Linked DNA regions of Homo sapiens: region 2 is linked to region 1. A link means that fine-mapping ties the variant in region 1 to the expression of a gene that starts in the linked region. Tissue or cell type: esophagus muscle. Region 1 holds a variant in brackets; the other region holds the start of a gene. All regions are shown on one strand. Distances are between the middles of the regions.

Region 1 (8,263 bases):
TCCCTGAAGCTGCCCCTTTGGTTCTCACTGTGTACGGATCACCGCAGAGCCCCCTTCTCCAGGTGTGTTCCTTGTGTCCTGAGTTCTCAAGCAGCCTTGTGGGTCCCTGTTGGAAGCTGATTCCTTCCGTTTCCTCTGGCCGCTTCCCTCTTGGACTCCTGGGCTCTTCTTTTTTGCCCTGCACCTTGCCCCCTGCCCTCCTTTTTCTTCCTTAAGAAAAAATGCACCCAGCACCTTGGGAGGCCGAGGCGGGCGGATCACCCGAGCTCAGTAGTTTGAGACCAGCCCGGCCAACATGATGAAACCCCATCTCTACAAAAAATACAAAAAATCAGCCGGGCGTGGTGCTGGGTGCCTGTAATCCCAGCCACTCAGGACACCGAGGTGGGAGGATCACTTGAGCCCGGGAGGCAAAGGCTGCAGTAAAGGCTGCAGAGTCTCACTGTGTCACTCAGGCTGGAATGCGGTTGTGCAATCTCGGCCTCCTGGGGTCAAGCTGATCCTCCCACCTCAGCCTCCCAAAGTGCTGGGATTACAGGCGTGAGCCACCGTACCCGGCCTTTCTGCCTCTTTTCTATCCATAGGTGTTGTGATGGTGAACACAGGCCTGCCTTTTCTGGAACACTCCCAGTTTTATGTCATTTTAACTTTTTCATTAAAGGTGAGCTTATGTGGGGAAGTGTGACTTAACTGTAATACCTCTGTGAAGTATCTCGTATGCGTTTGCAAGTTAGAAAAGAAATCCGTTATAAATCCATGGATTCTGAAAACTGGTACCGCCGACAGCTCTGATGCCCCGTTTTAGCCAGACATCGTAGCACCCTTTTTTTCCCTCACTGTTTGCACAACCAGAATTGGGCACCCCAGACCTGAGGCAGGCCGACACACCTCGCCCTTCTCTCCTGCCCTTCCTCCAAGTCCAGTTTTTCCGCAGCAGAATCCTGCTTTCAGTCACTTTTGGGGACCGGAAGGTGTGGAAGGAGAGAATCATCGAGCTGGGTGGTGGCAGCACGCGGCGTGTGCACTGACAGGATGGGCTTGACCTGGGCAGATGCTGGCCGGGTTGTGTGTGGTGCACACTCACCACCTCACCGTGGACACTCACCAGGGCACCCGTCGCTGCAGTGCCTCAGAGGGAGGGCGGCTCTTCCACCCCACGGGAGAAGAACACAAAGCAAAACCAAAGGCTTTGTCGCAGGGGACGTTTCTGGTCTAACAACAGGAGGTTGCTTCCACCAGGCCCCACAGCATTGAGCCCGATGGCGTGTCTTGAGTCCATAGGTTGAATCGAGTGGCGTGCTGGTGAGAGGGACACACTCCAGCCATCTTTTGGAGGACAATCGATGGAAGCACAAGCAGGAGCTGGAGGTTTTTTTTTTTTTTTTTTTTGAGATGGAATCTTGCCCTGTTGCCCAGGCTGGAGTGCAGTGGCACGATCTTGGCTCGCCGCAACCTCCACCTCCTGGGTTCAAGCGATTCTCCTGCCTCAGCCTCCTGAGTAGCTGGGATTACAAGCATGCACCACCACATCCAGCTAATTTTGTATTTTTAGTAGAGACTGGGTTTCACCATGTTGGTCAGGCTGGTCTTAAACTCCCGACCTCAGGTGATCCACCTGCCTCCACCTCCCAAAGTGCCGGGATTATAGGCGTGAGTCACTGCGCCCGGCCTAGGCTGCAGGTTTTATTCCAGGCAAGGATGTGGCTGGCATGGTATCTAGTGGGATGTTATGAAAGCTGGCTTTGTTCTGCAGGATGGCAACAGTCAATACCCGCATGAATAGCAGGCTCTCCCAGCTCTCAGAGCAAGCTCCTTCTGTGATTCCTGGGCGTGTTCTGCAGAGCTCAGGGTCTTAGACACAGTAGACGCTCAGTAAACACGTGTGGAGTGAATGAGCGCAGAGCTCATTGATCAGAGTGCATGTTTGTTGCAGCCGCCAGCACATCCTAAAGCTGGATCCTGAAGTGTCTTGGTCTTTTCCTACAACCTTGCCAGACCTTTAAGCATCTCCTTGTCCCGCCGGCCATGACCGAGCGGAAGCCTCCCACTTCTCAGTGTTCTTCAGCTGGGGGGTTTCTGGCTGTCACACAGACCACATGATATAGGAGGTGGGGGTTTTGTGCCAGAGGATTCCCAGATACGAAGGAATTGGAGCAGAGTCCTGCGGCTGTTTAAAGAGCACAGCAAGGCCGGGCGCGGTGGCTCACACCTGTAATTCCAGCACTTTGGGAGGCCAAGGTGGGCAGATCACCTGAGGCCAGGAGTTCGAGACCATCCTGGCCAACATGGTAAAACCCTGTCTCTAGTAAAAACACAAAAATTATCTGGGCGTGGTAGTGCATGCACCTGTGATCCCAGCTACTCAGGAGGCTGAGGCAGGAGAATCACTTGAACCTGGGTAGTGGAGGCTGCAGTGAGCCGAGATCACACCACTGCACTCCAGCCTGGGAGACAGGGTGAGAGACCCCATCTCAAAAAACAATAAATAAATAAAAAAAAATAAAGAGCACAGCAAAATGATGCAATAATGAGTGGCAGCAAGTGAGGACTCTGTCCAGACAGTCCGCTTGGGACTGGGCTAAAAGAATGTTCTTTCTTTTCTTTTTTTTGAGATGGCGTCTTCCTGTCACCCAGGCTGTAGTGAAATAGCACGATCTCGGCTCACTGCACCCTCCGCCTCCCGGGTTCAAGCGATTCTCCTGCCTCAGCCTCCCAAGTAGCTGGGATTACAGGTGCGTGCCATCACGACCAGCTAATTTCTGTATTTTTAGTAGAGATGGGGTTTCACCGTGTTGGCCAGGCTGGTCCCGAACTCCTGACCTCAGGTGATCCACCCACCTTGGCCTCCCAAAGTGCTGGGATTACAGGCATGAGCCACTGTGCCTGGCCGAGAATTTGGGTTGGAATTTGGCCAGACTTGGGAATTTCTTGACTGTAAGTCACCAATTCAGCGTCTTTTCCAGAAATGACTTTCTATACTTCTCTTACTTCCAGAAGTAAGTTTTCTTCTTATTGTACTTTTTTTTTTTTTCTTTGAGACAGAGTCTCGTTGTGTTGCCCAGGCTAGAGTGCAGTGGTGCTATCTCGGCTCACTGCAAGCTCCATCTCCCGGGTTCACGCAATTCTCCTGCCTCAGCCTCCCCAGTAGCTGGGACTACAGGTGCCCGCCACCACGCCCGGCTAATTTTTTTGTATTTTTAGTAGAGACAGGGTTTCACCGTGTTAGCCAGGATGGTCTCAATCTCCTGACCTCGTGATCCGCCTGCCTGAGCCTCCCAAAGTGCTGGGATTACAGGCGTGAGCCACCGCGCCCGGCCTCCCGGGGTGCTGGGATTACAGACGTGAGCCACGGCGCCTGGCCTTCTTATTGTACTTTCTAAATTTCCCCATAGTCTGCATGTATGACTTTTATAATCATAAAGTGAAAAATAAAATGCCTTTTTAAAAATTAATTGAAGTT[T/C]GAGAACATCGTGTCATTTGTTTTAAATCACATAGTGAGGCATGCCACCCATTTCCCCTCCTGTTTATTTTTCAATTAATAAAAGGCAAGGGATGTTTATGCTTGAGGCTTGAGGACCTTGGCTGCTTGTATTGGAATCCACGACTTTAGTCCAAATTGATAAGTGTTCTGGTATTTGTGGAGGCTTTTTATTTATTTTATAAAAACCAGCTTACACGAAGGCACATTTCTAAAGTTGACCACGTAGGCTTCAGGATAAACAGCTTTCTAGTTAGTGCCTCGTGAATAATACGGATATGGATTTACTGGAGGTGTCTTGAATGTGTTCTTATTGCATTGTTTTAAGTTAGTGGGAGGCCAAGATGAAAGGGGGAATTTCAAGATAAGCTGTGTGAGTCATTTGGTGTTGCGGTGGGGAGTTGAGAGGGATGGAATTTGCCTTGGCATTCACGCAGAGTCCTGGTGCAGAAAGTGTGTATCCAAGCAGAAGGTGGCCTGGGCTTGTCGGAGTCAAGGGGCCCTCATTTTGGCTGGGATTTGGGAAGTGAGCATGTCGTGAGTCTAATATTAGAAAACCAGTTCTTCCCCTTCCCCCACCCCCATCCTGAAAGCTTTTCTGTCCCTGTCGCGATGTGTGCCCGGAGTCTCTCCCGCTCCTGTCTCGAGTGCTTTCTCTGTGAGCATTCATTTAATTTACTTCTTGGCTGCCTATCTTTTTACTAATCAGATTTCCTCCTCTGGCCGAGCTCTTCTCCCAAAGGCCTCAACTTTGTCTTCAGCTGCCTCGCACCAGTTAGGGGGTTCTGTGTTTCAGAGGTGGACGTTGGCTTCTGTAAGTGGTAACTGCAAATCTGGAGTACAGAATCACATCAGATCCACAAGAGTTTTCTGTTCTGTGGTTGGTTGTGTCGTTTCTCGGTCCTCGTGGCCCCAGAATGATCTTGCCTTCTGGAACCTCTCGGGACTTTTTCGCCCACTTGGGAGCTTCGGGCCACAGCCTTTGATGTTAGTGGGAAGGGATATTACAAGTGGTCATGACGACTGAAACTGAGCAGGTTCAAGAGGACGGGCTGGGCTGGGCGCGGTGGCTCACGCCTGGAATCCCAGTACTGAGGGAGGCCGAGGCGGGCGGATCACCTGAGGTCAGGAGTTCGAGACCAGCCTGGCCAACATGGAGAAACCTCATCTCTACTAAAAATATAAAAATTAGCCTGGCGTGGTGGCGGGCGCAGATGACTTATGCGAAGCCGGCCACAACAAGGCACTCCCCACCCACTCAGCTGCTTGTCCGGGGACCACACAGCCCACTCGCTGCCCACTGATGGCAAAAGTCGGTGCCTCTCAGAAGCCTCTTCCGGTGATGGGTCCTTGCTGCTGACCCCACTAGAGCTCACACAGGGCAGGGGCCCAGAACCTGGGGAAACTAGCCCTAGAGATCCTTTAAAATCCAGCCTGTGTTTTCTTAGAAGGGGCTCAGGCCTTCCCCTGAAGCTGCCTTACTCGCTGAGGAGACGACGACTGGACCCAACGCCGCCTCAGAGTTTTGTTTTGCTGAAGACCTGCGGTTTCCAAACTGATGAATAACCAGAAGGACTGGTTAAATGCGGATTCCTGGGCCCCATCCCAGAGTTCTTGACTTGGTAGGTCCAGGCTGGGGCCCAGTAGTTTGCAATTCTAGCAACAGTTCCCAGGCAACCCGGAAGCCGTACGTCCAGGGACCAGAGTTTAAGAACCGCCGCCTAGGACCAAAACAAGGCCGGTTTGGGTTGGTAGCTGGGCAGGTAGACAGACTCTTCAGATCAGCTTTGCCTTAGCTTTTTTTTCCAGGATTCCAAATAATTAAACATTTCTAAAATTGTTCGTTTTGTTTTATTTTTGAGATAGGGTCTTGCTCTATTGCCCAGGCTGGAGTGCAGTGGTGCAATCTCAGCTCACTGCAACCTCCGTCTCCCAGGTTCAAGCGATTCTCCTGCCTCAGCCTCCCCATTAGCTGGGATTATAGGCACCCACCACCACACCTGGCTAATTTTTGTATTCTTAGTAGAGATGGGGTTTCACCGTCTTGGCCAGGCTGGTCTTGATCTACTGGCCTCGAGTGATCCCCCCGCCTCGGCCTCCCAAAGTGCTGGGATTACAGGCGTGAGCCACTGCGCCCGGCCAAAAATTTTTTTTTTTTTTTTTTTTTTGAGACGGAGTCTTACTCTGTCGCCCAGGCTGGAGTGCAGTGGCGTGATCTCAGCTCACTGCAAGCTCCGCCTCCCGGGTTCATGCTATTCTCCTGCCTCAGCCTCCCGAGTAGCTGGGACTACAGGCGCCTGCCACCACGCCCGGCTAATTTTTGTATTTTTAGCAGAGACAGGGTTTCACTGTGTTAGCCGGGATGGTCTCGATCTCCTGACCTCACGATCCGCCCACCTCGGCCTCCCAAAGTGCTGGGATTACAGGTGTGAGCCACTGCGCCCGGCCAAAAATTTTTTTAAAATAAATAACATGTGCTTATGGCGAAAACAAAATCAAGTAGTATACATAGGCTTATTATATGACTTTATCTTTCTTGTTTTTTTTTTTTGAGACAGGGCCTTGCTCTGTCACCAGGCTGGAGTGCAGTGGTGTGATCTCTGCTCACTACAACCTCCGTCTCCCAGGTTTAAGCATTTCTTCTGCCTCAGCCTCTCCAGTAGCTGAGATTACAGGCACACACCACCACACCCAGCTAATTTTTTTTTTTTTTTTTTGGATGGAGTCTCGCTCTGTCGCCCAGGCTGGAGTGCAGTGGCGCGATCTCAGCTCACTGCAGCCTCGACTTGCTAGGCTCAGGCAATTCTCCCACCTCAGCCTCCTGTGTCGTTGGGCCTACAGGCGTGCGACACCACACCCGGCGAACTTCAACATTATGTGTTGGTTTTCTGCTAGGCTAGAGATCGATTTAGCTCCCTTAAAAGCAAACTCACCAGCCGGGTGCGGTGGCTCACGCCTGTAATCCCGGCACTTTGGGAGGCTGAGTCGGGCGGATCATGAGGTCAGGAGTTCGAGACCAGCCTGACCAACATGGTGAAACCCCATCTCTACTAAAAATACAAAATTAGCTGGGCGTGGTGGCTCACACCTGTAGTCCCAGCTACTCAGGAGGCTGAGGCAGGAGAATCACTTGAACCCGGGAGGCAGAGGTTGCAGTGAGCCGAGATCGCACCACTGCACTCCAGCCTGGGCAACCAGAGCGAGATTCTGTCTAAAAAAAAAAAAAAAGCAAACTCAACTTTCTTTGTCCTCTTGGTATACCACCATTTACGGTTTTCCTGGTTACACTTTTAGCATTTAATAACATGTTTATGCCTTTACTCCTTATCCTTCAATAGGACTTTGGGAACGTTGGTGTCTTTCTATCCTGCCCATCAGGTCTCCTGCACTTCCTTCCTATTTTTTGTACCTTTAGCTTTGTCAAGGTTGTTCGTATTTACATTGTGTTGTGTCACCGGGATTCATGCTTTGTGTGTAGTTGAAAATCAGCCAGTCAATCAATAGGGGCATTGTTGTGTCTGTAAATATTGTTTGTGGCAAGTTCAAGTGGTATTTTTTTTTCTTTTTTGAGACGGAATCTCGCTCTGTCACCCAGGCTGGAATGCAATGGCACGATCTCAACTCACTGGCAACCTCCGCCACCCGGCTTCAAGTGATTCTTCTGCCTGAGTCTGCTGAGTAGCTGAGATGACAGATATCCGCCATCACACTGGCTAATTTTTGTATTTTTAGTAAAGATGGGGTTTCACCATCTTGGCCAGGCTGGTTTTGAACTGTTGACCTCACGGTGATCTGCCTGCCTCAGTCTCCCATAGTACTGGGATTACAGGTGTGAGCCACTGCACCCAGCCTGAGTCCCCTTTTTAACTTGGAGAGTCCCCTTTCCTGGGAGTTACCAGTCCTCCTCCATTCCAGACACAGGTGGTTCTCTGGGTCGGCTACACAGCTGTCATTCTGGAACTTTCTTCGGTACTTTCCTGAGTTGGATTTTATTCTAACCCCCGTCATTGATTGATTCCAAAGTTTTTTTTTTTTTTCTGTAGTTCAGATACCAGTTAGATGTGTTACCAAGGAGATCTTAAAGAGCAAACTGCATTTTCGAGAGCAGAGCTTTAAAATTTAGTATGTGAGTTCAACAGGTTACGTGTAAATGGGAATCAGCTGTCTTTGGATTAAACACTACTACACAGTTTTTTTTAAGAAGATTAAAAACGGAAGTGAAGCAAGGATTCCAAACGCTCTTTCCAGAGCAGCCCAGCTGCTTTGCAACCTGGACTTGAGCCTCCTCCGGTTGGGTCAGTCTGGAATCAGAGCCGCCTCCAGGGATTGAGGGATGCGTGGTAGGTATGGTGGGAAATGCTAAGCTAAGGTTGAACCCAAGTCCTGAGTTGAAATCCCGGTTTTAGTTCCTGTTAGCTGGTTGATCGCCCTTCTATTTTGGACAATAAGCCCAGCCTTCCTGGAATATTGGGAAGGTTAAATAAACCAGAGGGTAGGGGGGCACACTGGAAAACTGGGATGTTCTTCACAGACAGGTTGTCATTGTGAAGCTGTGAGATCAGATGTTGGATCTTGCTACAGGAGCTAAACCTGCAAAAGCTGTAAGTGAAGACCGAGCTGGAGTTTCGTGCACAGTCAAAACGTGTAGCCAATTGGACATATTTAATAACGTGAACCAGTGTTTTCCTGCAGGACTCACCAACTCAAATGCCAGTAGAGGGCCAGGCAGGTGAAGCGAGTGGCCTGGGCCAGGTGGTGGGGGACAGAGTGGAGGGCCGCAGCCAG
Region 2 (8,000 bases), 47 kb before region 1:
CCCAGCTAATTTTTTAATTTTTAGTAGAGATGGGATTTTGCCATGTTGCTCAGGCTAGTCTTGAACTCGTGACCTCAGGTGATCCGCCCACCTTGGCCTCCCACAGTGCTGGGATTCCAGGCATGAACCACCGCGCCCGGCCCACATCATGTGTGCTACTCTTTCTAAAGTCCAAGGACTGTGATTTATGAATCTTAAAAGTGACAAATATATATTTGTGCTGTGTGTATTTCGTATGACTTCATGTGCCTTCAAAAGCAATTTCTGAAGAGAAAATTCTAATATGTTCTACAGAATGCGATACATGTTGAGGCTCATTCCTACATATTTTAAAACAATAATAATTTTCAGAATAGCCAAGTCGATTCATGTAACATCGCTAGCTGAACACCAGTGGGGACATTCTCCTTTAGAGAACCACATACACAGAGAGCAAGATTTCTGTAGCCCAGAGCACACTGGCTAATTCTTCACAGGATGCCAAATGACTCCTTGGGCTTCTTATAACACCCACTACAATTATGATTCTGGGATCATTTCCATTGCAAATCCCCTCTTTCCACACCCCTTTAAAAGGCAGCTGTGATATTTGGCCTCTAACCAAGGCCTGCCGCATCCACAATTCTCTAAATTTTATTTATATTTCATGTGCAGTGTGTTCGAACTCTCCCTTCCCCAGGTGCCAGATGCTGGTTTGGACACACTCCAGTGGAAAGTGCTTTCCTGTTAAATAAGACAAGTCACACATGGAAGAAACCTCCTCTTTATATCAGACTTGCACCAAGTATACCAAAGTTAATACTCGAATATTTGCAATATTTGCAGCCCCCCAAATTCCCTCTTCACCGGCCTCCACACCAAATGCCTCTTGCCCTTTGGCTGCCGTAGCAGGTAAATGCTGATAGCCCTTTTACATTTCTGTAGTTTTCATAATTTTGAAAGTGTCAGAGTGTAGGACTCTAACACTCTTTCAGTAGTGCCTAACCCACGTACCCAGTGCATGGGCCTTTCAGATAAGATTTGGATGAGATGATAAAACATTGTAACCCATTTACAGGATTTCAAAAGATGTCTAGTAACTATGTGTGTGTGTGTGTGTGTGTGTGTGTGTGTGTATATATATACTTTTTTTTTTTTTTTGAGATGGAGTCTCTCCCTGTCGCCCAGGCTGGAGTGCAGTGGTGCGATCTCGGCTCACTGCAAACTCCGCCTCCCGGGTTCATGCCATTCTCCTGCCTCAGCCTCCCGAGTAGCTGGGACTACAGGTGCCCGCCACCTCGCCCGGCTAATTTTTTGTATTTTTAGTAGAGACGGGGTTTCACTGTGTTAGCCAGGATGGTCTCAATCTCCTGATCTCATGATCTGCCCGCCTCGGCCTCCCAAAGTATTGGGATTACAGGTGTGAGCCACCTCACCTGGCCTAGTAACTTAATATATATGATATGAGTAGCTTTAAATGTTTTCACCAAGGCCGGGTGGTGGCTCATGCCTGTAATCCCAGAACTTTGGGAGGCTGAGGCGGGTGGATCACTTGAGGCCAGGAGTTTGAGACCAGCCTGGCCAGTATGGTGAAAACCCCGTCTCTATTAAAGATACAAAAAATTGGCCAGGCTTGGTGGCGGACGCCTGTAATCCCAGCTACTCCAGAGGCTGAGGCAGAGAATTGCTTAAACCTGGAGGGGCGGAGCTTGCAGTGAGCCGAGATCGCGCCACTGCACTCCAGCTTGGGCAACAGAGCAAGACTCTGTTGCAAAAAACAAACAAACAAAACAAAACAAAAAAATTAGTGCATGCCAGTAATCCCAGCTATTTGGGAGGTGGTGCATGCCTGTAATCCCAGCTACTCGAGAGGCTGAGGCAGGAGAATCACTTGAATCTGGTAGGCAGAGGTTGCAGGAGCTGAGATCGCACCACTGCACTCCAGCCTGGGCAACAGAGTGAGACTCTGTCTGTAGGGACCAGCCCCACAGGGTCAGTGGGTCTCTCCCCGTGTGCGGAGACGAGAGAGTGTAGAAATAAAGACACAAGACAAAGAGATAAAAGGCAGCTGGGCCTGGGGAACCACTACCACCAAGTCGCGGAGACCGGTAGTGGTCCCAAATGCCAGGCTGCACTGATATTTATTGGATACAAGACAAAGGGGCAGGATAAGGAGAGTGAGCCATCTCCAATGATAGGTAAGGTCATGTGGGTCACGTGTCCACTGGACAGGGGGCCCTTCCCTGCCTGGCAGCCGAGGCAGAGAGAGAGAGGAGACAAAGAGAGAAACAGCTTCCACCATTATTAGAGACTTTTAGTACTTTCACTAATTTGCTACTGCTATCTAGAAGGCAGAGCCAGGTGTACAGAATGGAACATGAAGGCGGACTAGGAGCGTGACCACTGAAGCACAGCATCACAGGGAGACAGTTAGGCCTCCGGATAATTGTGGGCGAACCTGCAGTCAGGCCCTCCACAAGAGGTGGAGGAGTAGAGTCTTCTCTAAACTCCCCCCGGGGAAAGGGAGACTCCCTTTCCCGGTCTGCTAAGTAGCGGGTGTTTTTCCTTGACACTTACGCTACCGCTACACCACAGTCCGCCTGGCCACGGGTGTCTTCCCAGACGCTGGTGTTACCGCTAGACCAAGGAGCCCTCTGGTAGCCCTGTCTGGGCATAACAGAAGGCTCGCACTCTTGTCTTCTGGTCACTCCTCACTATGTCCCCTCAGCTCCTATCTCTGTATGGCCTGGTTTTCCCTAGATTATGATTATAGAGCGAGGATCATTATAATATGGGAATAAAGAGTAATTGCTACAAACTAATGATTAATGATATTCATATATAAGCCTATCTAAGATCTATATCTGGTATAACTATTCTTATTTTATATTTTATTACACTGGAACGGCTTGTGTCCTCGGTCTCTTGCCTCAGCGCCTGGGTGGCCTGCCGCCCACACTGTCTCAAAATAAATAAATAAATAAATAAATAAATAAATAAAGTTTTCACTAAAAAGTGATGCTTTCTGTGTGTGTTTTATAATATTGTCCCTACAGTGGCACAGACTTTCAGCATGAAAGTCTCCTGAGAATTAAGGTGGAATTCGACTTTGCAGTAGGATTCTAGGGTGTTCGAAGGCGGTCCTCCATCTAAGATCTTACCTGTGTCATTAGCAATACCAGCAGGTGACTAAGGAAGTGGATATAACTTGTAGAGACGCCAGTCCACTTTCCGCTCCCATCTCCACCTCTCCCAATTGTTTTATATGGTAACATTTCACCAAGCTGGAACCCTGCACCATTCCTTATTCTACCCTAGAAAAACGGAGAACCTTCGATGTGAACACTTACGTTTTGTGCCAAAAGCTTGAAGTTCTATTCTGAGGTTTAAATTAGCTCCCGCAAAGCGTCCTATCATTTGTGTATGTGGAAAGCTGCTGTAAAATAAAAGCATTGTGCCTGGTGTCCCGGCAGTGTCTTTTCACAAATGGAGTTTGGTCGGCCTCATTTTTCACTCTTTCCATTAGGTGGCGATGGATGCACAGGAAATATCCTCCGAAGCGGCGGTGGAAGCTCTGAGAGGGGCGGGTTTTCAGCTTTTATTTTTTTGCTTTCGCTGAGTCGTCAGTAGCTGATCCACACCGGCGGCCTGTTACTGTGGCTGGGCCCGGATCTGCACCTGCTTCGTGCACCAGTGGGTTGGGTTGGGGGGAGGCGCTGCGTGGCCAGAGTACTCGCCACGGACCACCTGTTTTTTTGTTTTTTTTGAGACGGAGTCTTGCTCTGTTGCCCAGGCTGGAGTGCAATGGAGCGATCTCGGCTCACTGCAGCCTCCGTCTCCCGGCTTCACGCCATTCTCCTACCTCAGCCTCCTGAGTTGCTCGGATTACAGGTGCCTGCCACTACACCCCGCTAATTTTTGTATTTTTAGTAGAGGCGGGGGGGGGGTGTCACCATATTGGCCAGGCTGGTCTCGAACTCCTGACCTTGTGATCCACCCACCTCGGCCTCCCAAAGTGCTGGGAATTCAGGCGTGAGCCACCGCGCCCGGCCCAGACCACCTGTTTAATCCAGCTTCTCCCTAAGCATTGGGGAGCATCCTGCCAGCTGGTAGGAAAAAAAAAATCTCTAGAAATGTTCTCAACTATCCATAGACTTGACATGAGGATGGAGCGGATTCAGGAGCGCGGCCAGCATTGGTCTGGAGGCCCCGCGGCGTCCTTTGCATCCATTTGTGGGGCTGGAAGACAGATTCGCTGGGGGGAGAGGCCCCGGCGACCCCTGGACGGAAATCCCACACTGAGACCTGGCACCCTAACCAGACCCCACCAGAAGCTGCGAGGGCGTCCTCGGCCCCCTTAGAACAGCTTGGAACACACAGAGGAGTCAGTGTCCAGCCAGGCCCGGCCTGATGCAGTGAGGACGGCGGGTCCTATAAGCATCTCAGGGTCAGTGGGGCCCGGAGCGGCCTAAGGGTCAGGCTTCGTGCAGGGAGAGGAGGAGGGAAAGGCCGGGGAGGAACAGGAAGAGGGTGAAGAGCTCCGCGGGGAGGGGGCGGGATCCCTGGAGGTCTGGAGGGAATTTAGAACTGGGGAGGAGAGAAAATGCGGGCCGGGCTGCAGCCCGGGAAAGCGCCGGCTCAGCGGGCCCTTCTCCTTTCTTCACTTCGGCCGTGGGCTTTCCAGGGAGAGTGCGGCGTTTCGGGTCCGGCTTCTCGCCCAAGCAGTCACCCCGCGCACCGCGGCCGGCAGCTGCGGACCCCGCCTGGGCGGAGAGCTCTGGCCACCGCCGGCCGCAAACGGGGCGTGGCGAGGGCGGAGGGGGCGTGGCGAGGGCGGGCGGAGGGGCGTGGCGAGGGCAGCCGAAGGGGCGTGGCGCGGGCCGCGGAGGGGGCGTGGCAGGGCGGGGGAAGGGGCGTGGCGCGGGCAGGCGGAGGGGGCGTGGCGTGGGCGGCCCTACTGGGCCGGGCTCTGCTCTCCCCAGCGCCTGCCGCCGACGCCGCCGCCTCCTCCCGCCGCGCGGACCGTGGAGCGGGGTCGCAGCCGCCTGCCCGCCCTGCGGTGGGCCAGGATGTCGGGCTTCCTGGAGGAGCTGCTCGGCGAGAAGCTGGTGACGGGCGGCGGCGAGGAGGTGGACGTGCACTCGCTGGGCGCCCGCGGCATCTCGCTGCTGGGTCTCTACTTCGGCTGCAGCCTCAGCGCCCCCTGCGCGCAGCTCAGCGCCAGCCTGGCCGCCTTCTACGGGCGCCTGCGGGGGGACGCGGCGGCCGGGCCGGGGCCGGGAGCGGGGGCCGGGGCGGCGGCGGAGCCCGAGCCGCGGCGGCGCCTGGAGATCGTCTTCGTGTCCTCGGACCAGGACCAGCGGCAGTGGCAGGACTTCGTGCGGGACATGCCGTGGCTGGCGCTGCCCTACAAGGAGAAGCACAGGAAGGTGAGCGGCGCGGGCCTCGCCGGCCCCTGCCCGCCCCCCACGCCCGTTACCCCTGCCCGCCCCCCACGCCCGTTACCCCTGCCCTCCGCCAACCCCGTTGTCCCCCTGCCCGCCCTCCACCCCCCGACCCCTGCCCCCAGTCCCCCGCCCCCCGACCCACTGTCCTCTCCCCGCCCCCCACCCCGCCGTCCCCGCCTCTGCCCCCCCCCCTTCCGCGCTGTGCCCGCACCCTCATCCCAGGACCCCTCTTTGGTTCGAGTGCTGCGCTGCGCCCGCCCTGGAAAGTTGGACCCCCCTCGGCCCCCGGGATCCCGGCTCGAGCCCCTCCGTCCGCACACGCTGGGAGCCTCGGGTGGGGGCGGCTGCGCTCGGGGATCCCGGTTCCGCGACCCCTTCACCCGCGAGCAGAGGCGCCAGGCCCTTCCTGCCTCCGCCGCCGACCCCCGCGGATTCCCACAGTGGGGAGGGGAGGGGAGGGGAGGGCGCACGCCCCCCGCCCGTGGCGCCCAAACCAGCGCGTTTCCTTTCTTTCCGGGAGAAACCTGCCTTCCCGGAGCCCCTTCCCCGGGGACCGGGGACCTGGGGGCCGAGGCCGAGGTCAGGAGAGGCGGCCGGTGACCGTGGCCGTGGCTGTGGCCGAGAAGGGCGCTCACGGCTCCGTCTCCCGCCCCCGCCTCCCCCGCCCCAGGCTGAGTTCGCGGCCACCGGGGAGCTTTGCATTGTCTGGCCGTCCAGCCTCCTCCCCAGACGCCTCCCGGGCGCGGGAACAGCCCGGGCTGTGCAGAGCTCAGCTGCGTGGTGGCCCCTGTGGTCCCGGGGTCTTCGAGTTAAGGGCTGAGCTGACCCCATCGATGCACATTGACTGGAAGAAGGAGGATTTGGGGAAATGGATACTTTGCTGTCAACTTCTCGTGTCTCCCAGTTTGCTGCCGAGTTGAGTTTGGGTTTCTGAGTGTGTCCCTTGGGTGAGGATGTCTGTCTCTGTGATAATAAAGCACATCCAGGACATTTTGTAATGAATGGAGTCAGAAAAAGTTTTGGAGCGCTGTTGCTTCGTGAGTGTATATGATGCAACGTGTGAATCCAGCCCCTTTCCCTTTTTGAGGAAAGCCTGTTTCTGGAGTGGACAGAAGGGCTATTCTGGGGGCGTTTAGTTTCCTCTGGGGAGCATGGCGAGGCGTGCCACGTGTTCCTTTTATATGTGCAGAATCTTGTTGAGAAGCATGATTTAGATTTACTGGGAGCAAAAGGCTTACACTGTGACCCCAAATGTCTTGAGTAAATCATCCATCCCGAAGCAGTGGGAGGTAGAGATTCGAGATTTAAAGTATGAAATACAGTTGATCCGATGCAGTTTGTAAATTTCATATTGGGAAAACATAGGTTCACTAACCACTCAGAGGCAAGAGTTGGCATTTTTACTGCTTTTTAGGTTATTTTGCCCATTTTGATTGACATGCTTGATATAGTATGAATATGCATGGCCAGTACTTTTTGATTCAAAATACGAGAATCCTTTGTTTTCCTTGGTGGTGGTTTTTGTGATACGTTCGTGGAGAAATAATGTTCAGAAAGGGATTTGCCAAAAAACATTTTCATTGTTACGGCAAGTTTCTGTTGTAGACTAAAGTCTACTTAAAATAATGTCCTTATCCGGCAATACAAATGATTTCTAGCTTTTGAAAACATAGAATTATGGTAAAATGTTACAGGCTTAACAGCCTATTGTTGTGTTTTTTACTGAAGAGGAAATACATTTTTTGGATAGTAAAAATATGGAGCAAACAGATGTTTTGCAAATGCTTAGAGCTTTTTCCGAAAAAGGAGAATATTTGATAGGACATGGGCCATGGCTGGCTCTCTATACCCTGGACAGGCTCTTTGCATGACAAAAAGTATTCTGCGGCCCTAGCCTGGACCTGCTGATTCCTCCATGATGAGAACCTGGATGACACAGGGCAGACTCTCATTTGAAAATACCGTTGAGAGTGCTGGACGTGCCCAAACCCTGGTGCGTTAGCATCTTAAACATTTTATTTTTTGGCCCAGAGTTTTTCTGACTCACATCCTATACTTTATTCTCTAAAACCAGTCCAGTTTTCAAGGAGGTAGTTTCTTTCCTTGGTCGTGAACAAACCACTCAAGATCTTTCTCGGGGATATATACCAGGTAAAAAGACTCCAGCTGTCCTTCTTATGGAACACATACTCTTGGAAATTACAAAAGCTACGTGCTGATTTTAAAAGGAATTATTGCCGGGTGCGGTGGCTCATGCCTGTTATCCCAGCACTTTGGAAGGCTGAGGTGGGCGGATCACCTGAGGTCGGGAGTTCCAGACCAGCCTGACCAACATGGAGAAACCCCGTCTCTACTAAAAATACAAAATTAGCCAGACCTGGTGGCGCATGCCTCTAGTCCCAGCTACTAGGGAGGCTGAGGCAGGAGAATCGCTTGAACCTGGGAGGCGGAGGTTGCGGTGAGCCGAGATCGCACCATTGCACCCCAGTCTGGGCAACAAGAGCGAAACTCTGTCTCAAAAAAAAAAAAAAAGGAATTATTTTCCCCCTTGAAACCAAAGAGATGTGGAACAAA

Alleles and levels. Alleles are on the strand shown, and positions count from the first base shown. SD is a standard deviation of normalised expression in the study named.
For the expression in esophagus muscle of the gene that starts at base 4,951 in region 2, allele T in region 1 goes with a lower level than allele C (moderate effect, 0.46 SD a copy in GTEx).

What was found. PIP is the estimated chance that this variant, and not a neighbour inherited with it, causes the effect.
Region 2: NXN starts here. The variant in region 1 is fine-mapped to the expression of NXN in esophagus muscle (GTEx, PIP above 0.99). The same link has a PIP of 0.9 or more in gastroesophageal junction.

The regions. Positions count from the first base shown.
Region 1 is chr17:929,218-937,480 of GRCh38, reverse strand. All of the region lies in intron 1 of NXN (nucleoredoxin), which reads left to right. Among named protein-coding and RNA genes, the nearest start is that of NXN, 46 kb to the left of the region's middle. The variant T/C (reference allele first, on the strand shown) is at 3,461.
Region 2 is chr17:976,727-984,726 of GRCh38, reverse strand. NXN (nucleoredoxin) reads left to right here and starts at 4,951. Exons shown (of 8, transcript NM_022463.5): 1 at 4,951-5,408. The coding sequence starts at 5,049. RefSeq lists enhancers at 3,384-3,678, 5,103-6,038.